4 linked regions of the Homo sapiens genome follow. The protein of the gene in region 4 interacts with the protein of the main gene of each other region in a biochemical or structural test. Each region holds a gene or a part of one and is shown on either strand. Other genes may lie near its edges. The genes, in order: PPFIA1, TGFB1I1, LRIF1 and GIT1.

The links.
Region 1: the proteins of GIT1 (region 4) and PPFIA1 form a complex in vitro, tested with the Homo sapiens proteins (2 studies listed by BioGRID).
Region 2: the proteins of GIT1 (region 4) and TGFB1I1 form a complex in vitro, tested with the Homo sapiens proteins (one study listed by BioGRID).
Region 3: the proteins of GIT1 (region 4) and LRIF1 form a complex in vitro, tested with the Homo sapiens proteins (one study listed by BioGRID).

What each region holds. Positions count from the first base shown.
Region 1 is NC_000011.10:70,378,669-70,384,897, forward strand, and holds the end of PPFIA1 (liprin-alpha-1), read left to right. Parts: intron 1-3,419; coding exon 3,420-3,478; 3' UTR 3,479-3,490; intron 3,491-4,334; coding exon of another isoform or gene 4,335-4,360; 3' UTR 4,361-5,728; downstream 5,729-6,229. UniProt on the Homo sapiens protein: May regulate the disassembly of focal adhesions. May localize receptor-like tyrosine phosphatases type 2A at specific sites on the plasma membrane, possibly regulating their interaction with the extracellular environment and their association with substrates.
Region 2 is NC_000016.10:31,467,524-31,475,154, forward strand, and holds the start of TGFB1I1 (transforming growth factor beta-1-induced transcript 1 protein), read left to right. Parts: upstream 1-4,628; 5' UTR 4,629-4,665; coding exon 4,666-4,678; intron 4,679-4,684; exon of another isoform or gene 4,685-4,700; intron 4,701-4,879; exon of another isoform or gene 4,880-4,926; intron 4,927-5,681; exon of another isoform or gene 5,682-5,727; intron 5,728-5,917; coding exon 5,918-6,033; intron 6,034-6,158; coding exon 6,159-6,211; intron 6,212-6,311; coding exon 6,312-6,454; intron 6,455-6,628; coding exon 6,629-6,716; intron 6,717-6,826; coding exon 6,827-6,932; intron 6,933-7,039; coding exon 7,040-7,234; intron 7,235-7,631. UniProt on the Homo sapiens protein: Functions as a molecular adapter coordinating multiple protein-protein interactions at the focal adhesion complex and in the nucleus. Links various intracellular signaling modules to plasma membrane receptors and regulates the Wnt and TGFB signaling pathways.
Region 3 is NC_000001.11:110,960,923-110,968,749, reverse strand, and holds the start of LRIF1 (ligand-dependent nuclear receptor-interacting factor 1), read left to right. Parts: upstream 1-4,827; 5' UTR 4,828-5,061; coding exon 5,062-5,129; intron 5,130-7,827. UniProt on the Homo sapiens protein: Together with SMCHD1, involved in chromosome X inactivation in females by promoting the compaction of heterochromatin.
Region 4 is NC_000017.11:29,586,635-29,593,599, reverse strand, and holds the start of GIT1 (ARF GTPase-activating protein GIT1), read left to right. Parts: upstream 1-3,951; 5' UTR 3,952-4,221; coding exon 4,222-4,273; intron 4,274-6,965. Other genes in the region: ANKRD13B (ankyrin repeat domain-containing protein 13B), read right to left, coding at 1-404. UniProt on the Homo sapiens protein: GTPase-activating protein for ADP ribosylation factor family members, including ARF1.

The sequences.
Region 1 (6,229 bases), on a different chromosome or scaffold from region 4:
GCTGCTGTTCCGTGCAGTCACATGTCTACCCATTAGAGGGCAGGGAAGGGAGGAAGGTGAACCTCCAAGAAGTCCCCAGTGGAGCGAGGCAGCTATTGACTATACCAGCCAGAGAGAGAGCATCACTGCCATGATTTCACATGCAGTTTGGGATTTTCCCTTAGACGGCCACTTTGATTTGAGGTTAACAGTTGACCATGGCTTCCTTACAGGTCTCTCAACTCTGCCCTTGTACTCATCTAATGAAAGGCAGTGCACAGGTTGAAGAGCCAGGCTGCCTAGGTTTGACTCCAGCTCTGCCACTAGGAGGTGCATGACCCTGAACAAGTCATTTAACTACCCTGGCCTCGGTCTCCCCATCTGTAAAATGGTCGTCATGGTAGTGTCTTCCTCATAGAGTAGTTGCGATGATTGAATGCCTCATTCATTAAGCTGGTGAAGTTCTGAGCCCGTGTCAGTCGGGGCTGTTTGGCAGCCCCTGTGCTACACACAGGTCACTCATGCTCACTTCTGAGGCCAGTGAGCAGACTGGAGGAAAGGAAGTGGCATTAAAAACTGTGCTAATCCTTGAGGCCAGGAGTTTGAGACCAGCCTGACCAACATGGCGAAACCCCGTCTCTACAAAAAAAAAATACAAAAATTAGCCAGGTGTGGTGGCACATGCTTGTAATCCCAGCTACTTGGGAGGCTAAGGCACAAGAATCATTTGGACCTGGGAGGCAGAGGGTGCAGTGAGCCGAGATTGTGCCGCTGCACTCTAGCCTTGATGACAGACTGAGACTCTGTCTCAAAAAAAAAAAAAATTTTTTTTTAAGTGCTAATTAGGGGCCAAGCATGGTGGCTTATACCAGTAATCCTAGCACTTTGATAGGCTGAGAGGCAGGAGAATCACTTGAGCTGAAGTTTGAGACTAGCCTGGGCAACACAGTGAGACCCCATCTCTAAAAAAAAAAAAATAATAATTGAAAACTGTGCGAATGGGGTTTTTGCCAATTTTTTTTGTCATCAGTCCCTCCCGTACGTAGGTTCATAAATTTTGTTCTCTATCACCTGTATAAAAATAAAAAGAAAAGTACATTTAAATAAAACCTTAGTTAAGCTGGACGCTTTGGGTGAGAATAGCTTACTTTGTGGCATTTTTAGTAAAAAGCTGTATTATTTATTTATTGTTTGCCAGAATTTGATAATATACTCAAGGGGGAAAACCCAGTATATCTTTTAACTAGGAACTTTTTACAAATTAGCATTTTTCTTCCAAGAGTCATGCATATAATTCTTAGAAAGCAGAACTGTGACTTGGCCTTCAGCTCAAGCTCTGTCACCTGGAGTCCACGAGTGCTTTCTTGTTTTACTTGTGGCTTCAATTTCAGTTTTCCTTCTGATAAATCACATCTCCCTTGTTAAATGTTAACAGGAATATTAAGAATGAGAGTTTGGATGGATGAAAAGTAAACCTAGGCCGGGCGCGGTGGCTCACGCCTGTAATCCCAGCACTTTGGGAGGCTGAGGTGGGTGGATCAGCTGAGGTCAGGAGTTCGAGACCAGCCTGGCCAACGTGGTGAGACCAGCCTGGCCAACGTGGTGAAACCCTGTCTCTAGTAAAAATACAAAAAAATCGGCCGGGCTCGGTGGCTCACGCCTGTAATCCCAGCACTTTGGGAGGCCAAGGCGGGAGGATCACGAGGTCAGGAGATCAAGACCATCCTGGCTAACACGGTGAAACTCCATCTCTACTAAAAATACAAAAAAAAAAAAAAAATTAGCTGGGCACGGTGGCAGGCGCCTGTAGTACCAGCTACTCGGGAGGCTGGGGCAGGAGAATGGCATGAACCCAGGAGGCGGAGCTTGTGGTGAGCCAAGATCACACCACTGCACTCCAGCCTGGGCGACAGAGCAGGACTGTCTCAAAAGAAAAAATTTGCCAGGCATGGTGACACATGCCAATAATCCCAGCTACTTAGGAGGCTGAGGCAGGAGAATGGCTTGAACCTGGGAGGCAGAGGTTGCAGTGAGCCGAAATCATGCCACTGTACTCCAGCCTGGGCGACAAGAGCAAAACTCTGTCTCAAAAAAAAAAAAAAAGTAAACCTAAAAGGTATAGGGAATTTATTATAAAGAAGACTTTTTACCCTTACATTAAATAACTCAGGCACAAGCCTGCTAAAGGGATTATTATTATTATTGAGACAGGGTCTCACTCTGTTGCCCAGGTTGGAGTGCAGTGGCTCAGTCTCGGCTTACTGCAACCTCAGCCTCCCAAGTAGCTGGGACCACAGGTGTGGTCCCATGCCTTGCTAATTTTTTGAATTTTTTGTAGAGATGGGCTCTCACCATGTTGCCCAGGCTGGTCTTAACTCTTGGGCTCAAGCAATCCTCCTGCCTTGACCTCCCAAATTGCTGGAATTACAGACGCGAGCCACCGTGCCCAGCAAAGTTGACTATTTTAATGGCTTTTTAATTAAGGGAATGTGGGGTAAACTCCAGCAGGTCTCCCAGGTTCTTAAGAGTCAGAGGGTTTGTGAAGATCATCTGTCCTCACCAACAGTCCCAACTGTCTTAATGTCTTTGCTGGAACCATGCAGGATGTTGATTAAGTGTTCCTGGTATACCTGTGGGAAAACAAAAAACATAACCGGGAGCAGCCAGTACCTGCTTCCGATTTGCAAAAACTTAAAATCCCAGTTGTTAATGGAAATCGGGCTTACTTATGGCCACACTGTGTTTCTTGAACAAGAACCAAAATCTGTGGTCTCTATGATTAATATTTCTGGTAGGAACTGAGACTGGGCTTCAGTTTTTAGATCAGCTTTCACCCCACTCCCTGGCCAACGCCCCACCCCTGCAGCCAGATCTCTGCACCTGCTCTGCTCCTCCCCAGGAGAAAAGGGCACCGGCTTCCCAGACACCCAGCTAGTGCTGGGTAGCAAGGTTCTCTCCCTCCTCTTAGACTGGTCTTGTACCCGACGTCGTTGGCCTCTGCGCTCAGTGGGGCTGGGCAGCATCAGCAGTGCCGCTTGGTGTTTCCTTCATACCAGTGTTAGAGATGGAGCACTTAGGGCAGGGAGAAAGCCCCATTGGTCTATGAATGCAGAGTTTAGTAAGAGATAAAGGGATCACTCTAAGTAGGGGTCATTTATGCAGATGTACATTTTGAAATTGTTACTGTACCATTTGGTGCTTGGTATTTCGGAGTAGTGTTCCAGAGTCTCCCGGGGCTCTTTGGGAGCTGGGGAGAGCCACCACTGGGTGACACTTGGATCTCTCTGGCTCCATCCCGCCCACTCAGGCAGCTCCCCTCAGGTCCCTCCGTAGGCACTGCTGTAGGTGTGAAGATGTGTGTCTACTTGTGCCCTCATGTGATGTTCTAAGACTAACTGCACGCTGTGTTTGCACGCTTCCTCTCGTGGCTGTTGAAACAGGCAATGTATCAGGAACACAGAGGTTGGATTCTGCTACAGTCAGGACTTACTCCTGCTAAAGTCTCCTGTTGGTGAGTAGAGAGCACCACAACCCCTAGAGATGGCTCAGAGGCACAGCAGGAGTCATCGGAGCTGCAGTGCCAGACTAGGGGTGTGGACCATGAAAGCCAGTGCAGTTTTTGGGGAATTTAAAATATATATAGACACAAGCTCTCCGTACCCATTAAGATCATTTTGTTGTTACAATTGATCATAAAGAGGTTAGTGTGTCCTCTTTTTTTAAGGAAAAAAATGTATTTTCACCTTTTCCTTAAACCTGAAAATGCTGACTCATTTTAATTGTCTGTGGATGTCATGGGGGTGGAGTGGGGAGGAGAGCAGAGCATGGCAGAGAGCGTCAGGGGAGAGTCTCTCCTCCTGACGTCGTTATGCACATTGCTGTGATTCCTAAGCTTGCTTTGTTTTAAATACACATTCTTGAATGAAACAAGCCCAAAGTTTTGTGGTTAATTATATATTATACTAAGTGTGACACTAATAGCCTTTCAGTTTGGAGAGACTGGTTCTTAAAACTGCGGACTCTGGCTGGTGAGTGGCCCGCCCTCTCCTTGCTGTTCTAAGCAATTTTAAGGTCTCCGTTGGAATATTTGACTGGTTTGTTCATCTTTTATTTGTAATTGGTAACATGGAGACGTAAGCCAAAATGAAGTCAGCCAAGGAGCTGTCTCATTGATGTGCATAGCCCTTGATGTTCTAGCCAGTGATTCTCAGAGCAGCTACGGCACAGAAAGTGAGGGGTCCTGGAGGGGAGGGGTCAGTGTCGGGGGGACGTTTGGGCCCCAGCATCAGAAGTTCCCGTTCGTCAGTATGGCCCGGCCTGTACTGAGTGGTTTTTTGTTTGTGTTTATTTTCCAGTTTACCCACACTACTTCTACAGATGATTATGCAGCATTTGAATCCAACAAAGACTACATTTTGGAATCCAGTGGAATCTTTAATCTTGTTAATACTTGTTATATGGACCCTAAGATATTTTATTACAGAGTTTTTAATTAGTGAAAAATTCATGAATACCATAGAGAAAATATTTTAGAATTTAATGTTTCTTATATTTATGTAAACTTATGACTCTTCATTTATATAGTTACTTACTTTTTCATGTATATCCAGGCTATAAATATCCTTTCAAATCATGTTCTTATACCTAATTTTAGTCTTTCAAATGAATGTACTGTAATGCTTGTATGTATAAATCCTATGAATAGAGGGCTTTTGTAAATTATGCATTTATTGTAATTATCATTAATTTTTTAATGATAAACCATGACAAAGGATTTTACGTTTATAAAATTATGACAGAAGCCATGTGCATTATCCTTTACGGACGCAGCCTAGCTCTACAGCAATCATCCTGAAATAAGCATACCTAATTTCAAGCAATTGTTGTATTTTCATGACTGACCTTAACTGTACTTTTTCTAGCAAGAGATGCTTTATTCTGCAGCATGAACAGATTTAAAATGGCTGGTGTTAAATATCAGCTCCTAATAAGATGTGGACTGAAAACACTATCACAACACTATGAGAAGCCCCTAGCACTGGTTAACGCTTTCCTAGCCTAGTCTCTGGATTTGGGGAGCTTGTCTTCAGTGGCTGAGACTGTGAGCTGGGAGCAGTTCTCTCAGCTGGAGAGACTCGGGATGGGGTAACCTGGGGACCAGTCTAGCCCCTGCACCCTCTTCCCTGCCTCTGCTCCTTGGGAGCGGGTGGAGAGACACCCATGTGGCTCCCCTTAGGGCCAGCACCAAGCACCACGCTCTCATCCTGCAAGTCGGCGCACACAGTGGATGAAGGCAGGAGACCCAGAAAGCAGTGCAGTGCAGCTCTAATAAAGGCCTTATTTTTCTTATGTAAATCATCTTTTTACATTTGTTTGTAAACATGTTTAAAGAACGAACCTAGTGGGACATTTTTAGACTTTGATGCTCTAGCCATTTTGGATTGTGTAAGTTGCAGATGTGGCTTTTACTTTTTAAATGGCATATTAACAAGCCAGCAAAGTGTGTCAGACCATGGCGTGGTATTTATTGTGCAGCAGATCCAGAGACAGAGGCAGCCTGTCTTTTCAGTTGGTTTCTGCTTTTAATTTACTTGTACAATTCATTGTTACTGTTCTGTTTTTCTATTAATCTTTTGTCAACTTCCTGATTATGTAACAAAGTATGTACAGTCTACTTTTGAACTATTTTTATCACAGTATTATTTATTGCTTTCTTTCAATAAAGTACTGAAGCATTTTCCACTGCCAATGAAGAATACTGAGAATAAGCTCTAACTGTTTTGGAAGGCAGTGTCACCATATGGAAATTGTATTACAGAAGTCAATTGACAGAATAAAGCAGCCAGGAGATGAAGTGCAGGTTCAGGGCGTCATCCTGCCCGCTGCTCTGGAGGTCCCGAGCCTGCATCACTGCAGGAGACAGGTGCCTGGTGTTAAATTGTTAAATGCAAATGTGGGGGCTCACATACACAGTCGGTGGGTAGGGCCCAAAGGCAGAGCCTAGGCCGTGGACCGCGCGCATGCACGCATGTCCCTTAACACCGTTTCCCAGCTCTGCTTCCTTCCTCGGTGCTGGCTTCACACTCCCACCTGCTCTCCCTGCCTGCTCACAAAGGTGGCTCCCAGGCCTGCACCCTTCCACACTGATGGCCTCTGGAAATCAGGAAGCCTGGTTCCCTAATAGCTCACATCCGGTCCTGAGTTGTGAAGCAGCCCAGGGTGGCAGAGGGGAGGCGACACGCTGACAGGC
Region 2 (7,631 bases), on a different chromosome or scaffold from region 4:
CTGGGCCACGTGTCCTACTGCTGTCTGTCTGAGGGAAGACCTGCTGTGGAGGGAATCTCTGAGCCCTGTCTTAGTCATGCCCAGAGACAGACAAAGACCTGTGCTGGCGTTGAGGGGAGGGAAGGGCTCACATTGCTTTGGTCTCCAAGGCAGGGTCTCCATCATCTGGCTTCCAGATCTTTTTTTTTTTTTTTTTTTTTGACTATTATTTTGCTTTAGATTCAGGGGGCACGTGCATGTTTGTTACACGGGTGTATTGTGTACTGGGGAGGATTGGGTTTCTAGTGAACCCATTACCCAAAGAGTGAACACTATACCCACTAGGCAATTTTCCAGCCTTTGCCCCGCACCTACCCGCCCCCCTTTTGGAGTCCCCAGTGTCTGTTTCTATCTTCATGCCCCTGTGTACCCATTGCTTAGTTCCCACTTATAACGGAGAACATGCAGTATTTGGTTTTCTGTGTCTGAGTTAGTTTACTTAGGATAATGGCCTCCAGCTCCATTCATGTTCCTGCAAAGGACGTTATTTCATTTTTTAAGGCTGTGTACTATTCCATGGTGTATATGTACCACATTTTCCTTTTTTTTTTTTAAGAGACAGGGTCTTGCTATGTTGCCCAGGCTGGTCTCAAAATCCTAAGTTCAAGCAGTTCTCCTGCCTCAGACTCCTAAAATGCTGGGATTTATAGGCACGAGCCACTGTGCCAGCCAACATTTTCTTTATTCAGTCACCCATTGATGGATACTTAGGTTGGGTCCATGACTTTGCTATTGTGAATAGTACTGCAATAAACACAATGAGTCCAGCTGTCTTTTACATGATTTCTTTTCCTGTGGGTAGATGCTCGTTAGTGGGATTTCTGAGTCAAATGATAGTTCTAGTTGTAGGTCTTTGAGAAATCTCTATGCTGTTTTCCAGAGAGGTTGAGCTAATTTACATTCCCACCAACAGTGTATAAGTATTCCTCTTTCTCCACATTCATGCCAACATCTGTTGCTCTTTTACTGTTTAATAATTGGCTTGCAGATTTTTGACTCCTCAGTGGCAGCCTGATTTTGGGGAGAGCTGCACTGGGCCTGCCAAGGTTTGCTTCTGGGCAGCTGAGGTTGGCACTTGCTGTCTCTGAGCCTCTGTGAGTGTTGGTCCAGGTCTCTGGTTTTCAGGCTATGCATTAGAACCAAGCAGTGAGCTTTGAAAAACTATTGATGCCTGGGGTCTTTTTGCTCACATTGGACTGGGCATCGGTATTTTATTTTATTTTATTTTATTTTTTGGAATCTTGTTCTGTCACCCAGGCTGGAGTGTGGTGGTACAATATTGACTCATTGCAGCCTCCGCCTCTCTGGTTCAAGCAATTCTCATGCCTCAGCCTCCCAAGTAGCTGGGATTACAGGTGCCACCATGCCCGGCTAACTTTTTTTGTATTTTTAGTAGAAATGGGGTTTCACCATGTTGGCCAGCCTGGTCTCGAACTCCTGACCTCAGGTGATCTGTCTGCCTTGGCCTCCCAAAGTGCTGGGATTACAGGCGTGAGCCACCGCGCCCAGTCAGGCCCTATCTTCAAATATAGTCACACTGAGGGTTGAACTGTGATGTATAAATGTGGGGGAGACACAAACATTCAGTCCATAACACTCCCTTTCCCCCAACCCTAGGCAATCACTAATCTACATCGTATCTCTACAGATGACCTATTCTGGACATGTCATATAAATGGAATCATACAATGTGTGATCTTTCATATCTGGCCTCTTTCATATAGCTTAATGTTATCAAGGTTCATCCACACTGTAGCATCTCATTTCTTTTTATTAGGAATAATACAGTTTCACTTTATGGATTGCTGTGGTTTGAACATGTACCCCAGAGTTCATGTGTTGGAAACTTAACCCCCAATTCAACTGTTGAGAGGTGGGAACTTTAAGAAGTGATTAGGTTATGTGGGCTCTTCCCTCATGAATGGATTAATGGCATTATTGCATGAGTAGGTTAGTTATCAAGGGAGTGGACAGCTGATAGATAAATGGATGGGTTCTGCCCCCACCCCACCCCCTCTCTTGCACTGTCTTGCCCTTCTGCTTTCTGCTGTGGGATGAGGCAGAAAGAAGGCCCTCACCAGATGCAGGGCCCTTGACCTTCGACTTCCCAACCTCTAGAACTGAAAGAAAGATATTTCTATTCTTTATAAATTATCCAGCCTTAGGCATTCTACGATGCAGCACAAAACAGACTAAGACATGGATATGCCACTTTCATTTCTTCAATCATCAGTTGACGGACATTTGGGTTGTTTCCACTCGGGCTATTATGAATAATGCTGCTATGAATACTCATGTACAAGTTTTTTTGTGGAATATGCTTTTATTTCTCTTGGTTACATATCTAGAAGGGAAATTGCTGGATCATATAACTCTATGTTTAAACATGTGAGGAACTGCCAGACCATTTTCCAAAGTTAGTGAACGATTTTACATTCCAACCAGCCATGTGTGAGGGTTCCAATCTCTCCATATCCTCACAAAAACTTGCTAATTACCTCTTTCTTTTCAGCTTTTTTTTTTTTTTTTTTTGAGTCGGAATCTCACTCTGTCACCAGGCTGGAGTGCAGTGGCACAATCTCTGCTCACTGCAACCTCTGCCTCCCGAGTTCAAGTGATTCTCCTGCCTCAGCCTCCCGAGTAGCTGGGATTACAGGTGCCTGCCACCACACCCAGCTAATTTTTGTATTTTTAGTAGAGACGGGGTTTTGCCAAGTTAACCAGGCTGGTCTCCAACTCCAGACCTCAGGTGATCCGCCCGCCTCGGCCTCCCAGAGTGTTGGGATTACAGGCGTGAACCACTGAGCCTGGCCTTTAAAATATTATCATTATTATTTGAGATGGAGTCTCGCTCTGTTGCTCAGGCTGGAGTGCAGTGGCACGATCTCAGCTCACTGCAGCCTCCACCTGCCAGGTTCAAGGGATTCTTCCGCCTCAGCCTCCCAAGTAGCTGGGACTACAGGTGCCCACCACCATGTCTGGCTAATTTTTTTGTGTGTTTTTAGTAGAGACTGTTTTCACCATGTTAGCCAGGCTGGTCTCGAACTCCTGACCTCAGGGGATCCACCCACCTCGGCCTTCCAAAGTGTTAGGATTACAGGTGTGAGCCACTGCTCCTTGCCTAATTACCTGTCTTTTTTGTTATTGCCATCCTAATAGGTATGATGTGGCATCTCATTGTAGTTTTGATTTGCATTTCTCTGGGGACTAATGATGTTGAGGATCTTTTCATGTAATCATTGGCTATTTATATAACTTCTTTGAACTGTCTATTCAGGTCGTTTGCCCATTTTTTCTTCTTTTTCTTTTTTATTCTTGACACAGGGTCTCCTCTGTTGCTCAGGAGTTCAGTGGCACAATCTCAGCTCACTGCAGCCTCTGCCTCCAGGTTTCAAGCAATTCTCCTGTCTCAGCCTCCCAAGTAGCTGGAATTACAGGCTCCCACCACCACGCACAGCTAATTTTGTGTTTTTAGTAGAGATGGGGTTTTGTCATGTTGGCCAGGCTGGTCTCGAACTCCTGACCTCAAGTGACCTGCCCGCCTTGACCTCCCAAAGTGCTAGGATTATAGGTGTGAGCCACCATGCCTGTCTCGCATTTTTAAAAAGCTCCCCAGGTTGTTCCGATTTGCTGCTGGGTTGATACTCACATTCCAGTGCTCAGATCTGTCCAGAAGAGTGGCTGCAGCACAGTTGTCTGTCCATAACTACCTCTATGGCCTCTCGTTTCCACCTCGTTTCTCAGGGTCTCAGTCCAGGGAAGGCCTTGCCACTTTGTGGCTGGAGACTGTGTCTTGCTTTCTGCTCTGAGTTCATCAGTAACTTGGGAAAGGGCTGTTTCAGAGCAGGCCTGGGCCACCTCAGTGCTGAGGAAGGGCTTTGTCTTGCAGGCTGGCTGGGGGTTGGTTGCCTGGGAGTGTTTTCCCCGAATTTGCAAGGGGCTTGCGCCCGGGTTCGAGTTTACGTGTGTCCATGACCAAGTCTTGGAGGGAAGGTCCTAGTGTAGAGTCTGTGGGTGGGTTCACTGTGTCTGTCCCCGTCCCTCAGATTTCTTTGTGTCTGGTATGTATGCCTCTTGGGGCCTCTATTTATCTGTCAGGGTCTCCGATGGGAGGGTCTCCGAACCTGAGGTCTAATTGAGCCTTAGAATATCACTCCTGCTACCAATCCAAAAATTCCGTCTGGGACAAGTCTCCCAGGAATGGCATGGGTGGGAGGGAGGCTCTTGTCTAGGACTCAGGCGCTAGCTTTGAGCGGTGTCTGTTTGGGGGCCTCAGTCCGTGTCTGTAAGTCTCCCTAGGGAGCGGCTCTGGGGCTTGGTCTGGAGAAGCCACTTCTCTCTGGCTCTGGCCTCCTGGGGCTCCCTGCAGCTGAGGCCAAGGCTGGGGTGTGGCCGCCTCCGCGGCAGGCCGGCGGGCTGGGCTCGGGTGGGCCGGGGCGCTCCCTCCTTTCCACGCCCCCACCTCGGGTTCCCCCGTTCATCGCCCCCCCATCCCCATCTCAGCGGGTCCCGGCTTCCTTACATGGTCACGGCCGGGCTTCCAGCTCCCGGACGTCCCCCGCCCCCCGCCCCCACCGGACACGGCCCCCGCCCTGTTCGCCCCGCGCCACCGGCCCGCGCCCCGCCATGGAGGACCTGGGTGAGTGGGGCCGGATCCCCGGGTCCGTGGCCCCTCACCGCTGCCCAGAGCTGCCTCCCCGCCGTCGCTCTCCCGCATCTCCCCATCCCTGTCTTCTTACTTCTGCTTTTCGCCTCTGCCCGCGCCTCCTTTCCAACTCCACGTCCCCCTTCCTGCCTCTCCCTTCCTGCCTTTCCTGGGCCGGCCGCTCCCTCCCTTCTTCCCTCGCTGTGCTCCTCCATCCCAGGCTGCGGCAGATGGAACGGGAGGTGCGGCGCCCGCGGGCGCCCGGGCGCGGGGCTCTGGGGAGGGAGGGGTTAAAGGGGCCTCGGCCCGGGGACCGGGAAAGTAGAGGGCACGGGAAAGTCTGGCATCAAGTTTTGGAGAAAAAAAGCGGGCCTGCCTGCACCAGAGTTTTGGGAGAGGAGGAGTTAAGGGCTCCTGAGCACAGTGAGGGTCAGGTCCTTGAGGCAAGGAAGAGAATAGTAACTCAGGAGTGCCTAGGCGCCCGCGAAGGCTTCAGGGTTTCACGCGGGTGCTCAGAGACGAAGACTGAGGGCAGGACTTCTGGGTTCTGGAAGTGAAAGGGCTCAAAAGACCCGGATCTGGGGATGCAGGGATGGAGAGAGGTGTCTTGTCCGGAAGGGGGACCCAGGTATCTCGTCCTCCCTGCGAAGCCTGGGGCTGGAAGGCTGTGCGCTCCACGGGAGAGAGGGGCTTCCGGCCCCTGGCGGTAGAGGGCGCTGCTCGGTAGGGGTAACTGACGCTGTACCGCAGATAAACAGCCAATCAGAAGGCAGGTCCCAGCGAAGCGCCAGTGAGGAGCCCAGGGCGGGACTCAGGGGCCTGGGAGTGGCCAGGCTGGGCGGGGCCTGTGTAGGTAGAGGGAGGAGTTAACCAGCATGGAAGAGAGAGCGTCCAATCAGAAAGCTGAGGGCCAGGCACTGGGCCAATGGAGCAATTTGGAGGGGAGCCAAATTTGGCTTGGGTGAAGAGCCCATTTTGACTGCATCAGAGAAGATGGGGAGAATAAAATAATCAGGAGGCTGGGTTTGTGCTTGGCTCCAAGCGTGAGCAACTGGGATATTCTGGTCATAAATATTCCTTGCTACCCTTCGAGCAGTGCTCTGCCTGGCTCTGGCCCTGTGACCTCTTCTCTTAATACTGGCTTCTGTCCTTCTCCAGTACTGCCCACTGGGAACCTTATCTTCTGATCTAACCGTGACCCTTGTCTCTCTCCCTGATGGCCTCTTCCTGCAGATGCCCTGCTCTCTGACCTGGAGACTACCACCTCGCACATGCCAAGGTCAGGGGCTCCCAAAGAGCGCCCTGCGGAGCCTCTCACCCCTCCCCCATCCTATGGCCACCAGCCACAGGTGAGATCGGATGTTGGGGACTGGGGCAGCCACTAGGGCCAGGCTCGGCCTGGTCTATGGGGATCTCAGCCTCAGTGGGGCAGAGTGCAGGCCTGTCATCCCACCTGTGCGTCTCCGCTCTGTAGACAGGGTCTGGGGAGTCTTCAGGAGCCTCGGGGGACAAGGACCACCTGTACAGGTGAGGGGCCTGGAAACCAGGGCATGGGGGCCAACTGAGTCTCAGGTGAGGAGGCTTGGATTCCCCACCCCTGAACCCAGGCTCCCACTCTGCTTCCCAGCACGGTATGCAAGCCTCGGTCCCCAAAGCCTGCAGCCCCGGCGGCCCCTCCATTCTCCTCTTCCAGCGGTGTCTTGGGTACCGGGCTCTGTGAGCTAGATCGGTTGCTTCAGGAACTTAATGCCACTCAGTTCAACATCACAGGTACCAGGGTGACTGAGAGAGGCCTTGATGCGATAGGGGCAGGGGAGGGAAGGGTGGGGCAGAGACTAAGAGGAATACACTTCCCAGAGTAGCAGTTAAAGGGACCTAAAGCCTCAAGTGTGAGGGTGCGTTGAGCATGGCCCTATATGTAGCGTCCTCCTCTCCTCTCTCCAGATGAAATCATGTCTCAGTTCCCATCTAGCAAGGTGGCTTCAGGAGAGCAGAAGGAGGACCAGTCTGAAGATAAGAAAAGACCCAGCCTGTGAGTTTGGCGTCGTTGTCAGGGCTGAGAGATGAGTCCTGGATATCTGAGTCACTAGAGGGAGCGTTGCTCTGGGAGGCTCTGAGATGACACAAGCATGTTCTTCACAGCCCTTCCAGCCCGTCTCCTGGCCTCCCAAAGGCTTCTGCCACCTCAGCCACTCTGGAGCTGGATAGACTGATGGCCTCACTCTCTGACTTCCGCGTTCAAAACCATGTGAGTTGGGCAGTGGGCCAGTGTCCATTTGTGGCTCCCCAACCCCTTCTAGACAATTCCACATCTGCTGCTTTGCTGACTCAATTCTCATGTCCTCCCCGCTGCAGCTTCCAGCCTCTGGGCCAACTCAGCCACCGGTGGTGAGCTCCACAAATGAGGGCTCCCCATCCCCACCAGAGCCGACTGGCAAGGGCAGCCTAGACACCATGCTGGGGCTGCTGCAGTCCGACCTCAGCCGCCGGGGTGTTCCCACCCAGGCCAAAGGCCTCTGTGGCTCCTGCAATAAACCTATTGCTGGGCAAGTAAGTGGAGCCTTGTGAGAAGGGAGGCAGAGACCTGTCACAGACCCATCTTTAGTGAGAGCTGGGCTTTATGCTGTTCCCTTTTAGTAAGTTAATCTGGGAAGTGGGTATCATTATTACTTATGTTTTATGGATGAGGAAACTGAAGCTCTGAACCACACAGCAGGTTAGTGGTAGGGTGAAAATTCCAACCATGTTACCATTTATTGTGGTCCTACTGTGTGCCAGGCACTGTGCCAGCTCCTTTACAAACCCTCATCTCATCTGATCTTCACAAAACACTCTGTGGCTCCACCCAATATCTCTCAGGCATCTACAAAGGCTCTCTCTTCCTCCGTCAGAGTCTGGACTGGGTTCACTGGTCCTTGTTTTATTGACTGAGCAGATGTGATTGACA
Region 3 (7,827 bases), on a different chromosome or scaffold from region 4:
ACTTTTCTTGAGCCTCTGCTCATGGGTCCCTCATTTTCCCTTTAAAACACCCAATCACCTCTGCACAAATAAAAGTGGAACTCAGTTGTTTCTCTTACTATCAGTAGTTACTGAATAAAATCTGTTTCAATGTTTTAACTAATGTCCAGTTGGGTTTATCTTTGGCAACCCTCATGACAAGGAACTGAGGGCAGCAGCCTTTGGCCAACAACCAGCAAGAAACACAGGCCCTCAATCCAGCTGCTGCAAAGAACTGAATCCCTCCAACAACAAAAGAGCTTGAAATTGGCTTTTTCTCTAGTTGAGCCTTCAGATGAGACAGTAGCCCTGATCAACACCTTGATTGCAGCCCTGTAAATGACTCTATAGCAGAGGACCTGACTAAGCTGTGCCTAGACTCCTAACTGACATTTGTTATTTTTAGCTGCTAAATTTATGGTTATTTGTTATGCAGAAATATATGGTTATTTGGTATGCAGAAAATAATACATTTTTCCTCCCTGAGGGCTTTATTTTTTTTTCTTTTTGATATTCTAGTTTTAATTTCTTAAGGCATGTTTTTTTTTTCTTATTTCTCTCACTTGATACCTTAGGACATGCTTTAACTGACATCTTTCTATTTTCTTTAATTCTGGAAAAATAGTTTTTAGATTTAAAAAATATTTGTTTTAATTTCTGTCCTTCTGCAATCCTATTTTCCAGATATTGAAACTTCTACTTTTCTATTAGACAAATTTTAACTTTTATTTTTATATTTGCTCTCTTTTTATCCTTTCCTACTGCCCTCCAACATTTTCTTTACTCTCTTCTATCAGTCTCCTAATTCTTTATTCAGCTGCATGCATTCAACTATTTATCTCATCTAGTGTGTTTATTTTAGTTCATATTTGGCTTCACTCTCATCCCCCAAATATGTTCATTTTTTTCTGATTTTCACTGATATACTGTAGTATATCTGTGGGAGATATGTTTCAATACTCCCAGTGAATGCTTAAAACCATGAATAGTACCAGACTGGATACGGGCTACATTTTTTTTTCTTATACATACATACCTATAATAAAGTTTAATTTATAAGTTAAGCATAGTAAGAGATTAATCACAACTAATAATAAAAATAGAACAACATGCTAGCATCACTACTCCTGTACTTTGGGCCATTTTTAAGTAAATAAGGGTTACTTGAACATAAACATTGTGATACCATGACAGTGGATCTGAAAACCAAGATGGCGCCTAAGTGACTAACAGGTGGGGATATGCTAGAGAAAGGGATGATTCACACCCTGGTGGGGCAAAAAAGGACAGCTCAAGATTTCATCATGCTACCCAGAATGGCACACAATTTCATACTTGTGAATTGGTAATTTCTGCAATTTTCCATGTAATATTTTTGAACCATGGTTGACCATGGGTAACTGAAACTACAGAAGGTAAAACTGAATAAGCAGGGTCTACTGTAGTTTTCTATTACTTTAATTTTCCATGTAACTTGATTGTACATTTAACATTTTTGATCTGTTTTTGTAATGCTAATTTAGTAACAGTCATTTCATTTCTAAATATGTCTTTAAACTAGTCTTTATTAACTGAATTGCAAGGTGATGCGTGCCTGTAGTCCCAGCTACTCAGGAGGCTGAGGCAGGAGAATCACTTGAACCTGAAAGGCGGAGGTTGCAGTGAACCAAGATCGTGCCACTGCACTCCAGCCTGGGCAACAGAGCGAGACTCTGTCTCAACAACAACAACAACAAAAAGATATTTAAGCCTCAGTCTGCATTTCCCAATGAATTTAGAAGAAAAGTGTATGTCCTAAGGAATTCAAAGAAGCACTGCTGATCATACCAATTAGCTTCCACTCCAAAAGGCAATTTCCATGGTAAGAGTTATATTTAAATTGTAGTGCAAGACCACACTGATAAAAGTCAAGTTACCTATTTATAATATACCAGCCAGGGTGGTTTTGCGGAAAGGATGGAGTAGTGACTTCCCAACACTGGCAGGTAATCCTGCATCTGTTTTCATCAGTGCCTTACCTTAGCATGGGTTTTTCCTGCCTTGACTTTATCCTGTCCATACCAGGGGCTTGGCTATTGCTACAGGTTTATTTTCAAAGGACAATTAATGATCATATCTGTTACAAGAGAAAAATTCAAATAGTTGCCTCCACCCTCTGCTTCTCGTGGTGGCCCTTGGCTTTAGCCTGTAACACTCTATACACTCACATACCAGTTCTGAAAATGTCCTACAGATCGAAATTTTCACAGCTGCTTTTTGTGTGTGTGTGTGTGTGTGTGTGTGTGTGTGTGTGTGTGTGGTGGTTGTTGCTGTTAATTCCTAAAAATCTAAACTTCCTTTTTTTTTTTTTATTTCTCCAGGTGTCAGCCGTCTGTACTAGTTCAACATCTTGATTAGAATCAAGGATTTTGGCTGGGCACAGTAGCTCATGCCTGTAATCCCAGCACGTTTGGAGGCCAAGGCAGACAGATCATTTGCGGTCAGGAGTTAGACACCAGCCTAGCCAACATGGTGAAACCCTGTCTCTATTAAAAATACAAAAAATGAGCCAGGCGTGGTAGTGCGCACCTGTAATCCCAGCTACTCGGGAGACTGAGGCACGAGAATCGCTTGAATCCAGGAGATGGAGATTGCAGTGAGCTGAAATCACGCCACTGTACTCCAGTCTGGGGTGACAGAGTGAGACCCTGTCTAAAAAAGAAAAAGAAAAAAAGAAAAGAAAAAAGAAAAAGAAAAAAAGGAAAAGAATCAAGGATTTTGATCCTTATCATAAGAGCAATGGGGAAACTGATTTTTTTTTTTAATGCAGTGAGATGACACCATCAGATTTGTGTTTCCATATGGTATCTCTGGCTGCAGCATTTACAGGAATACAAGAGTGGATATGAGGCTCACGCCTGTAATCCCATCACTTTGGGAGGCTGAGGCGGGGAGATCAGGAGGTCAGGAGATCGAGTCCATCCTGGCTAACACAGTGAAACCCCATCTCTAATTAAAATACAAAAAATTAGCTGGGTGTGGTGGCGGGCGCCTGTAGTCCCAGCTACTCAGGAGGCTGAGGCAGGAGAATGGCGTGAACCCAGGAGGCGGAGCTTGCAGTGAGCTGAGATTGCCCACTGCACTCCAGCCTGGGTGACAGAGTGAGACTCCCTCTAAAAAAATAAATAAATAAAAAAGGAGTGGATATGAGGGTATCCGTTAAAGCTTTACTAGACCAAGTAAGCTTGCTCTACAGTAGTAGTAATAGAAATATAAAGCAGACTTGTAAGATATTTAGAAGATAAAATCTGCAAAAGTTGGTGAATTGTATATTTTGGAATAAAAAAAGGAAAGTGTTAAGGATGACACTGGGATTTAGGCAACTTTAATGGAAGGAAGTTATTTCTTTCTTTCTTTCTGAGATAGCACTGATAAAAGAAAACGTGTAGTGGGGGGAAGAGAAGCAAGTCATAAGTGTGGTTTTGAACATGTTTCATTTGAAGGGGCTTTTAAAATAGCAAAAAGGATATCTCAACAATTCACTTGAACATCCAGGTATAGATCTCAGAGAAATCAGAACTGGGAACATAAATTTATGAGTCACACGGCAGCATAATGCAGTAGTACATGGTGTGTTTAGCCAGACAACCTGGATTTGGAGCCTGGCTCCATCACTCACAAGCTCTATGACCTCTAAAAATTTGTTCACCCTCTCTGAGCATCAGTTACTTCATCTGCATATAATAATTATTTTATTAGCTGTTAGGAGTAAATTAATTTTGTAAAACACTTAAATCAGTGCCAAGGACATACATGTGTTTGGTGGTAAAATAATGGGTGGAGGTGGTAATTCAATCCAGGAGCATGAATAAAACCACGAATCGAGACAAGACAGTTTGAAAACATAAGAGAATCAGTGATCAAGCTGAAAGGAACTCCCTTGAAAAGGGAGATATCTTCAAAAGAGATTGAGAAGGTGTAGACAAAAAGGTAGGAGCAAAACCAGGAAAGTATATTGCCAATGGCGTCAAGATGAGGGACTAATTAATAGTGCTGCGAGGAAAAATTCTCAAATAGTGTGAGATAAAGAGCATCAACTGCAATGGACAGCTGAATAAATGATTTAATGAATACAATGGATGTTCTGATGCAACTCCCAGATCTCCCTTCAGAAATAAAGGTCTATATGACAATAAGTGATAGTTTCGATGAACGTAGGCTGGAGGAAAGAGTTAAGTAAGTCTAGAGGCAAAGCTTCAGGAAAGAGGAGTAAATGGGAAACCTTCAGAGAAGCAGCAACAATAATCGCTGGCCACAGGCAGGCGTTTTAAGTTTTCTCAGGCCAGAAGTGCATGACTCCAAAAAAGCGCGCCGATGTCTTTTAATGCACTGACGGGAGAGAAAAACGTACGCTAGCGGCGAGCACAGAAGCAGAAAATTTATGATTGACCCCGGAAACATTTTATTTTGCGTAGGTGTCGGGAGAGCTTTCTTTTGCGATTTGTTCCTTGATCCGGAAGAAAAGATAGCAAATATCACTTGCCATTGGATTGCATCATAAGGGTTGGGCTTTAGCGAGCCAGTCACCTTGGCAACCGGACGTGACGACCCCGGAAGACGCCCGACCGAGCTTTGCTCCAGCTATCGGCTTCAGTGGGCGGGGCGGCAGAGCCAGACTGACGCAGTCTTCAGCACTGACCAGGCTCTGTTGGGGGTGGTGCCACCAAGGCCACGCCCCCTGCGCCTGCTCCGGCGGAGTCTGGAGAGTTGTCGTAGGCTCTGAGGGCGGAGACTCACGCCGATTCTCTCTCAGCGTAGGGCTGTGAGGGCGCAGTCCACCGCCAGGAGCCTTCCGGTTTCTGCGCGGTGCGCGACCTCGTCCCGAAGCCTGGGGATACACCCTCTCGAGAGCCCGCTGTCGCCCTCCGTTAAGGTCGAACCCCTCACAGTTGCTGTGGGCAACTCCAGCCCAACATTCCCTCGCTCTGGTTCTCGCCCCATTGGGAAACTCGGCCCCACGCTTCCCACTTTTCTGGATGAGGTGTCCCCTTTCTCCCCACTAAAATGTCAAATAACCTACGGAGGGTCTTCCTGAAACCCGCAGAGGAAAATTCAGGCAACGCCTCGCGTTGGTAAGTACCGGTTTCGAATCCTCCCCACGGCTGCCCCTCTGTCCGTCTTAGGGATGTGGAGTCGGCCGTCGTTTCCGGACGCTGTGTAGTTGAGAGGAGTTGGAGCCCGCAGAGTGCGCCACCCAGGCGGGAAGCGCTTGTCTCCGCGGCGCTTAAAGCCCATAGAGCGCTTTCCTCTGGGAAATGTAAAACCTCTTTAGAGCCTGACACAGCGGCTCCGCGGGACCCCAGCGTCTCAAGTTTAATAGGCGGACCGAGTAGATCTCCACGGGAGATGAAAACCAAGATGGCCGACGCTCTTATGTGACTCAAACCTTCTGGAAGATTCTCACGCACACGCAGAAACGCAGCAGTCAGCACGGATTAGCAAGTGCAGCCCTGGTGGCGCTGGACCTTCAGTGAAAATAGATTTTAATAGTGAGACAGAAAGGGTGTGTGATTGAAGAAAAAGGGCTTTAGAATGAGGAGATCGAATATTTAAAATTTCAAGTAATAGTTTTATGTGAAGAGAGAGAAGTAAGACTGGAGAAATCCTCGTGTAAAGTCAGTCCTTTTGAACAGCCTTTTTGAAGTAGGGTGTAATGAAGTGCCATTTCATTGGCTATTTATATTTGGCATGAGGAGAGTCCAGTATTTCTAAGGAAGATATTCTTGTAAAGTTAGAAAATAGATGATCAGTAACTTAGTTTTTGGGTTTTTTTTTTTAAATTGTATTACAAGGAAATGAATTGGAAACAATGTTAGCTAAAGCAGAATATTTTCACTTGTACTCTCACATGGTTAGTAGATTAAGTGATGAGGAAAAAATAGGGTCTGCAGACTCTAATAAGAAAATGAAGAACTAAGATGCAAAACTCATGGAAGAGGATTTTCGTTTGAAGAAAATCAAGCTACCTGGGGTTAATCTCAACTTTGCTAGTTAGCATTTGTGAGGCCAGGTACCTGTTTCCAGTCTGTAAATAATAGCACTTAGAAATATTTTAAAGATTAGGAGAATGAAATAATGTAAAATACGTCGTGTAGGAAAATAGTAAAGCACAATTTAAATGTTAACTATTACTATTATAAGCATACAACTTTAATTCTGTACAGATTTTAGCCCAGCAGGTAGTTTTCTTTAATTGCAAGTAGAAAACTCCATTGCAATAAAGACCGTAAGTAATGGTGAGTCCTTAAAAGCAATATTATAAAAGGAAATGGTCACTAATAGTAATGAGCCAAAATTCTGTTGAACTGTCAAGATAGAACCATTGTATTTCAAATCATAAAAAGAGCCATTTTTTGGTGTACTTGTGTGTTTTTTTCTTTTTTCTTTTTTTTAATTTTGTGGTGGAAGTTTGGGGGAAGGGGCAGAGAGTGCCCTGTGTACATATGAGAAAGTAGAATTACTTTTTAAATGATTAATTTCTGCAGCCTTATTTTAGTACCTGAATACTTACTGACTTCTGACTTAGCTTAATTTATAGAAAATTTGTTTTAGGATTGCATTTTTAAATACAAAAAGTAAGATAAACAACTTTACTTTGTGTGTGTGTGTGTGTGTGTGTGTGTGTGTGTGTACCCTTAACTCTGTTATCCAGTTTCTAATCCTTTTGGGGATTTGGAGATTTTTAAATTACAAATTACATTCATAAGTCATTTTGAGTTCATTAACTCATTGATTTATGCATTGTTTTTATTATTTTTGAATGTATTTATTTAAATCATTGAGGTTTTACATCATATATTTGGGACATTTACCAGATGACTTTCTGAAGCTTCGACATTTACTTTGGTTAATGGTTGCGTATTTGATTCCATTCTGTTCTGTAAGTAATAAAACATCCAAATATAATTTTGTAAATAATATTAACGGCCCTTGTAGTTTATTGGAAACTTAGTTTTCTTATTTTTCTGGTAACATGTTTGATGGTACTAAATCATTTATTTTTATAACTTAAATGACTATGATTTTCTTATTGTTTGTAGCTTAAATATTTCCTGTTACTGCTTATTTAAAATTTTTCAGTAGCATAATACAGAATTGTATATTGTTGTATATTGTTTGAAGTATCTCTTAATTCATCAGAACATCACATGTAAAACCCAAATTTAATCTTAGAGTACAAAGGAAAAATCTGGAAGATATTTGTGATGGTATGCATTTAATTTATATTGATTTGGGTTTTATTGTCGAAGAATAAAGCAGGAGTCAGAACGCTATAGTGGAAAGAACCTTTTAAGTCATAGAGACTTGGGTTCATATCCTAGCTTACCACTTACTATCAATACAGTTTAAACATTTGATGAAAAAACATTCATTTAGTGCCTACTATCTATGTGATAGACTGTGCTAAATGGGAAGACTGATTAATAATAGGATATGGGCTGTTGCCAGGGAAAACCTTACAGTCATGGTGGAGGAGGAGGAAAGTAGAGTTGATGTAGTAAAGGAAGAGAGTAGAGAAAGGGAGTTGGAAGAAAGATTCCAAGAACAGCTGAGTTGGGAAACATAAGTATCAGCTATCCAGTTAAAGATAAAAGCAGGATATGCTTATGCAGAGAACTGGTAAATAAAGGACGTGTATGGTTTATGATTGATACTTGTTGCTTGATTCTGTACAAGTAGGATAGATAGATAGCTCTTAAGGGTTCTGTTTGCCCTGCTAAGGAGATTAGACTTCATCTATTGGAAATAGGTCAGAGTATTTTAAGAAAA
Region 4 (6,965 bases):
CGCGGCGCCCGGCCGGGGAGGAGGGACGGCGCCGGAGCCGGGGCCCGGGGCCGCGGGGCGGGGGGCCGGCGCTGCCTGCTCGCGGGGCTGCGGCTCGGGCATGTGCGAGCGGCGGCGGGCGGGGGCGGCGCGCCCGGCGCGGTGCGGGCGGCGCGGGCGACGGGCGTCCTCGCGAGGCGGCGGCGGCGGGCGGCGCGGAGAGGCCCCCACCCGCCCTGGGAGGGAGCGGGCACTCGGCGGCGCTGCGCGGACTCGCGCTCGCCTCCCACACCCCCGCACACAAAGACGCCGCTCGGCGGAGGGAGCAGGCGCCCGCAGCGGGCGCGGGGGCGCACGGGACGCGGGCCCCGGGGACGCCGCCGCAGGGACGCGCGCCCGCAGCCCCCGGGTCCCCACAGCTGCATAGCCCGGCCCTCAGCCCGAGCGGCCGGCGCGGGATACGGGGATGTGGGGATGATGGGGAGAGAGGAAGGGGACCAGGCGCCCCGGGTAGAGCTTGTCAGCTCAGCCCCGCGGCATCATGGGGTTTGTAGTCCGCCTCGTGAAACTGGGGGTGGCAGGTGGCCGAAGAGGGTCTGCACTGTCCCCGGATCTCGTGGGAGAGTGGGCGGGGAGTCAGGCCTGGCCCAGACGCGGGCGGGGCCCTGACGCCAGGTGGGCTGGGACGCACCTCCCCCGCTGGCATTTTGCCTTTTGCTGGGGAAGTGGGGGGGCACGGGCCTAGGTCGAGCGTTTGGGAGACGGGGTGGAGGTGTGGTCTTCAGAATTGAGCTTGGGTCCCAGGGGCCATGAAGAAGGATCCGGATTCCCAGAAGAGAGCGTCTGATTGGGAACTCCTGAGAAAGGTGTGGGGCATCAGTACCAAGGGTCATTGGAGCAGCCAGGGGTCTGGCCCCTGGAACATTTCTGAGGAGTCTTCCCTGCCCTGTTAGAAAATTAAACTCCATCTTCCACACATGTCATTGGAAACAGAATGTCCAGTAACGCGGGAAAGATGGTCCCTTTCCCCCCGCACACTGTCCCCAGCAAGAACCAGAGTGAGGTTGGACAGAAAAAGCAGCAGGTGGCAGCTCCGTTCCTCCACCCAGCTGGCCCTTCAGGAAGGGAAGTGACTGATTCCAGAGACTGTCTCCTTCCTGAATGACCCCAGGGTGAAGAGGTACTTCCAGAATGGTCCCTGCAGAGGGTGTGGTAAAAGTTGAATTGGCCTCTCAAGCGCCAATTGCAAGGCCTGGAAGGACCAAGAGGCTTGGACCAGTCCCTGGAGGGAGGGGACTGTGATGTCAGAGAGACCAGAGTTCGAATAGCTCCAACTGCCTGACCTTAAAAGAGCAAACTGCTTAATTTTTCCGACTTTCTCGGTCCACTCCCCTTCAAAATGAGAATCTAGATACTACCTCCTGGGGTGAGCTAAGGATAATGACTGCCCTGGAAACAGCGCCTCCCTCCCCCAACCAGGCGGGCCGAGACAGGTGGCGGGACCAGGCACGGTGCCTTCTTGAGCCCACCTCAGAACAAGGCAGGAATAAGGGATTCCACACCGGCCCTACTTAAAACAACAATCCAAGAAGTGTTTGTGTGGGAGGTGCCAGCAAAAGCTTGCAAACTCTCTCAGGTTTCTTTGTGTGGTCTTCCCTCCTTCCTCCTCCACACCCTGTGGTGCCAGGCCCCAGCGGGAAGAGATGAGGGAGGAGCGGGCTGCCTCGCCCCTTTCTCCCGCCTGGGAGGAGCCAGCTGGCGTCTCCGGGGGCCCGGGACCGCTGCCCGCCTGCACCACCAGGGGTCAGCAGAGTGTCGTGGCTGCAGCCAGTGCAGGGGAGGGGGCTGGCGCGGTTGAGGGGCATCTAGGAGTGGCCGGGAGCATGCCTGTGCATTTCCTTATTAAATTGTTTTTCGAACCTTGTGTGTGATTCCACTGTAGCAGTCCTGCTTCCTGGGGTGGTGACATCTCCACGGGGGAATCCAGAAACCCTTTTATCTCCAGTCCCAGGCCCAGAAGTTTGGCTGTGACGGGGCTGGGGGAAACAAAGTTTGGACGATGTGTCCGCGCCAGGGCCACTCCCAGGTAGTCTCTGAGCCAACCAGGAGATGGGGAGTGGGGTGGAGGGGTAAGCAGAGTGAATCATCCTTCTTCCCCAGCAAAGCCCAGGAGTCCGAGGACAGGGGGAGTTCAGGATGGATTGTGGGGAGTTGTCGATTGTGGGGAACTGTCCCCTGGGCGGCCGTGTTCTTTTTTTGCCAGGCGGCGGTAGACACTGAACCCAGGTCGCTTGCGCTTCGGCCCGCGCTCTCAGCTGCCACGTGCTCGAGACGCGCCCACACAGCGGAGAAACAAAGACAGCCAAGCGGCAGGGCTGCCAGCAGCCTCCTCGACATTTAATAAATGAAATTCCATAGCTGGGGGTCGATCGGGGGTGAACGGGCGGCCACCGCTCGTGGACTGAGCGCCTGGCACGGGCTGCCTGGCCACTCCTCCCGTCTCACTCCCCCCGCCCCTTACCCCCTTCCCGCTGAGGCCACCAAGCCCATGGACTCTGGTGAGAGAGCAGCTCGGGGCGGCAGGTGGTGCTCCCCCCTACACACCAGCTAGGTATCGTTGCTTGCAAAAGCCCCACCAGCTGAGCGGCTGGCTGTCGAGGGAGGGGAGGCCTGCAAGATTTTTTTAAGGTGCAATTATAAATAAAGCCCATGGATCGCGATTTCAAACAAACTTGTCAATCTGGGCCGCAGCAAAAGGCGATGGAGGCAGCTTTGCATGTATTTCGGGTGGTGTGACTCATGAGCATTACTTGTCTCCCCTAGGGAAGGAGCCTGCCCACCCACAAATCACTGCCGCTCTGGCACCGTTGGGATAATCGACCAACTTGAGCACCCCTGCCAAAGGACTGCCCCCATCTTAACAAGCAGGAGTCTCTGACTCTTGGAGAACCCCTCCTCAATTGTCACCACTGACCTGGCCCCCAGGTCTGGCCCTGGGGACCTCTACCCTCTCCCCACAAGCAGAGTGCCCGGGCCTTTTGCTGCTGCAGGGATTGGGGGTTGGGTACACGCGCGGCACACGCGTATGGGGGCGCATGCTCAGTGCGGGGGCTGCGCTCATGTGCGGCCTCTACCTAGGCTCCCTGCCCCCCAGCCCACCCACGTCCCTCACCTGCCTTGCCTTTGCCTGCCTCGTCGTGTGAAGTCCAGGAAGAAAGGCCGTCACCTGAAACGGCCCCTCTATGTTATATGCACCCTTTCTGGACACACACACCTCTGGTGGCCCAGAAACACCGTGGGTGTGTGTAAGGCGGATGACAAGTGGATGTGAGTGCACACAGGCACAGTGGTCACTCCTCGGGAGGTCTTTAAAAACCGCCCAGATTCTCTCCTCTCTGGATGGAAGGATGCATGGAGAGATAGATATATTTTTAGTCCGGAGGCAGGGGAATACACTGCCTGACCTTTCTGGCACCTGGGCGTCCATATTGTTAGCAGTGGGCGTATTCAGCAAGAGTGTGACACATACACACACACCCCTGGACACACAGATGTGGACACCTACGGGACAGGGACGCACACCTCACCCCAACCAGAGATAGACGGGTACCCCAAGGCACAGCCCCTTTGACCTGGAGCGGGACTTGGGCCTCCAAGTCCTTCTTCCCTAATCCCCACCCTCGCCGTCCGTGGGCCCAGCGTCCCCCGGTCCACCCCACGCGGAAAGTGAAGGGGAGGGGGCTGTGAGGGTGACTCACATTGCCTCCGGGCCAGGCGAGCGCTGCAGCGGAGGCCAGGGCCGCAGGCCACGCTGCCCGCCGGGGCCGGGCATCTGCCGCGGCCCCTTTAAGCGCCCCCGCCCCCTCCTGCCCGCGCCCGGGCTTCCTTTCTCTAGGGGGCGCGGCCGGCAGCGCGCGGCGGGGCGGGGGTGCGGCCCCTCCCCCTGTGGGCAGGGCCTGCGCCGCTTCCTGCAGAAGCGGCCGGGAGCCGCGCAGGGGGCGGAGAGAGGAGCCGCGAGCGGCGGCGGGGCGGCGCGGGGCGGAGGGCGCCCGAGGGCGAGCGGGCAGGCGGGCACGGCGGGTTCCGGGCCAGCCCCGGGGCGGACGGTTGGCCGGGCGCGCGGAGCCTCGCCGGGGCCTCGCCGGAGCCGGGCCGGGCAGCAGGGGCCGCCGCCGCCGCCCGGGCCCGCCGCCCGCGCCCCCCACGCTGGCCCAGAGGGCTGCGGCCGCGTCGCCGCTGAGGATGTCCCGAAAGGGGCCGCGAGCGGAGGTGTGTGCGGACTGCAGCGCCCCGGGTAAGCGCGGCGGGGCCGGGGGCGGGACCGCACAGCCAGGCCGCCGCCGGGCGGGCGCCGGGGCCTGGCAAGAGCGCTGTGCGGGGCCGGAGGGCTGGGCGGGGCGGGGGGCTGCGGCCTCCAGGCTGGGCCCCCGCCTCGGCCACTGCGGAGCTGCGCCCTTGGCGGGAGGGCCGGCCTGGGGTGCCCATGCTCCCTGGAGGCCGTGGACTAGCGAGGAAGGACGTTCCCGGCGCCGCCTCCCGCTCCTCGGTCTGAGGGAGGCGGGCAGCTGGCTGCTCCTCCACCTCCATCTCTGTATCCGACGGAAGCGCCAGCCTGGGGTGGCAGGAGGGCCGTGGCGGAGGCCGTCAGGGCTTGGGAGGTGGGGGCGAGTGTGGTTTTATGTCATCTCAGTGCCACCCCCGCGTCTTGCACCTGCTGCTCGCGTGGTCGGTACGCCTGCCGGGGTGGTGGAGGGCAAGGAGCAGAGGGCCGGGCAGATGCGCCAGTGGGGCCTGAATACCGTCTCCTCAGGAGCAGATGAGCGGTGGCTACTCCCAGGACTCCCTGCCTCGGGTTCCTAAGGCTAGCGCTCCTTGCCGGGCCTGGCGTTCAGGGCCAGTCTAGACCCGGGTGTCTTCTCGGGAGGCATCCCCAGGCCTGCTGGTGGTGACTGGGAACAGCTCGGCTGGACCCTGCTGTTCCTGTTCACCGGTAAGGCCTGCTTGGGAAAGTGAGCTTGGCATCAAGCTATCCTGGGTGCGGGCCCCTCCCTGTCCCCTAGCCCAGTCTGGCCAGAAATGGGTGGGAGGCCGTGCCGAGATTCCCCGTATCCTGCTGGCTTCCTGGCCTGTCTCCTGGCTGTATTTACATGGTGGTTCCCTTCCTTTTCCTAACAGAGTTAGGACTGGGCTGGAGTGAAACCCCCCAGGCCTGCTGAGGAAGTCAGGGGTAATGATCCAAGAGGCTGCTCCCTTCTGATGAGGGAGGACAGCCAGTGACGGGGCTCTGCAGCTGGCCTGGGAAGGAAGCTCTAGCCCACATCCATTCTTTCTTTAGCAAAGGAGCTATCTCCCTGGTAGGCCCCTGGGCAGGCTGCGGAGGTCCGTGAACTCTAGCGGGGCTGTGGGCATGATTAAGAGTGAGAGTATGGGGTGCTGGTTTGTGGGCCCATAACTTTCAGCCACCCCTTGAGCAGGCCCAGGACCCCACCGGTTGAGCCTCACAGATGCTCTGGTGGTTCTGGGGGTGCCAAGCTAGAGTATTTGGGAACTATGACTTAGCAGGGCTTGGGCACAAAATACTCCATAGGTGGTTATGACCAAGGCCTCCTAGGGGCTTATCATGGTTTAGAGGGCCCTGGGGTTGAGGGTCCATACCCCTAAGAAACTGTGACTCCGTTCCCCGAGCTGCAGGCAGGTCTGGGGATGGCAGGGCTGAGGATGCACCTTGCCTTATAAATGTCTCCCCACTGTTCCACAACTCCGTGGGGTAAGCATGGCATGGAATGTGGAGGAGAGTCTTAGCAGGCGCCCAATCGGGGGAGTCTGGGGCTTAGTGTTGCCTTTGTTCCCAGCTTACTCTGTAATCCCAACAAGACTTTCCTCACTGTGGGGTCCTCAGCTTCCTCAATTCAGAGGCAAAGAAGTTGGAGTAGAAATGGTTTTTGGGGGGCTGCCATCTCCGAATCTGTGGTCTGATTCTGGGGTGGAGGGGTGAAGGGCAGCACCAGCAAGGCAGTTGTCCTTTGTATGTTGCGTTGAATGTCCGACCACAGCCTCTGGATGCCCAGTGGGCTCAGGGAGGAATGGTGGGCATCAGATGTGTTGGATTGCCCAGCTCCTCCTCCCAGGTCCTCATCTGTCAGAGGAATTTGTGCCCCAGATGCCTCCTTTCCCCTGATTCACAATAGAGGTCAGGAAGGTGGTGAGAAGGTGAGGATGGTGGGGTGGGGAGGATGTGGACAGTCTTACTCATCAGCCCACCTAGCACCCAGCGAGGTGTCCAGCACATGGCAGGCACTCCCTGAGTGTTTGGCTGCTTGTTAGGACCCTGGCTGGCTGCTTGGGACTATCCCACACCTGGACCCTAGGATGCTGGCCCTGGCATGCAGCGGCATGTTTGGTCTGGGTCCTGTGGCATCTCAGGCAGAGAGGCATGAGGGTACCCAGCAGTCCGGAGTCCAGATCCAGTGCCAGCCCCATGGTGTATCGCTCCACCCCAGGGTCACAGGCTTCTTTTATTATGATAGGAGCCCTGCAGTCCTAACCACAGGAGTGGGGCCAGGGACTTTTTGTGCTTGGTTAATTTGGGGGGTCATGGAGGTCAGAGGTGAGATGCAGCCTGTCCCCAGAGAGCCCCATCCTCCCTCTGCTCCCGGGCATGGGCACACAGGACAAGTGTGAGTGTGTTGCTAGGCAGCTGGACATGACATGGCTGCTCTGGCAGCTTGTGCCACCTCGTCAGGCACCGTATGTGTTCCTGCCTGCCTGGGGAGTCCAAGAGAGGAAGGGGGCAGGGAGCCCTGGAGAATGTGCATCTTCCCCTTTCCTTAGGCTTGGCCCACCTCGCCACACGATCTCAGTCAAGGGCCTCTCCTCACCCCATGGGCTTCTATCTCAGCCTTTTCCACTTTGGCAACCCTGGGGGTGAGAGTGAAGGCCTCAAGATGCCTGTCCTGTAGGTATCTCTGGTGAGCAAGGCCGGGGAC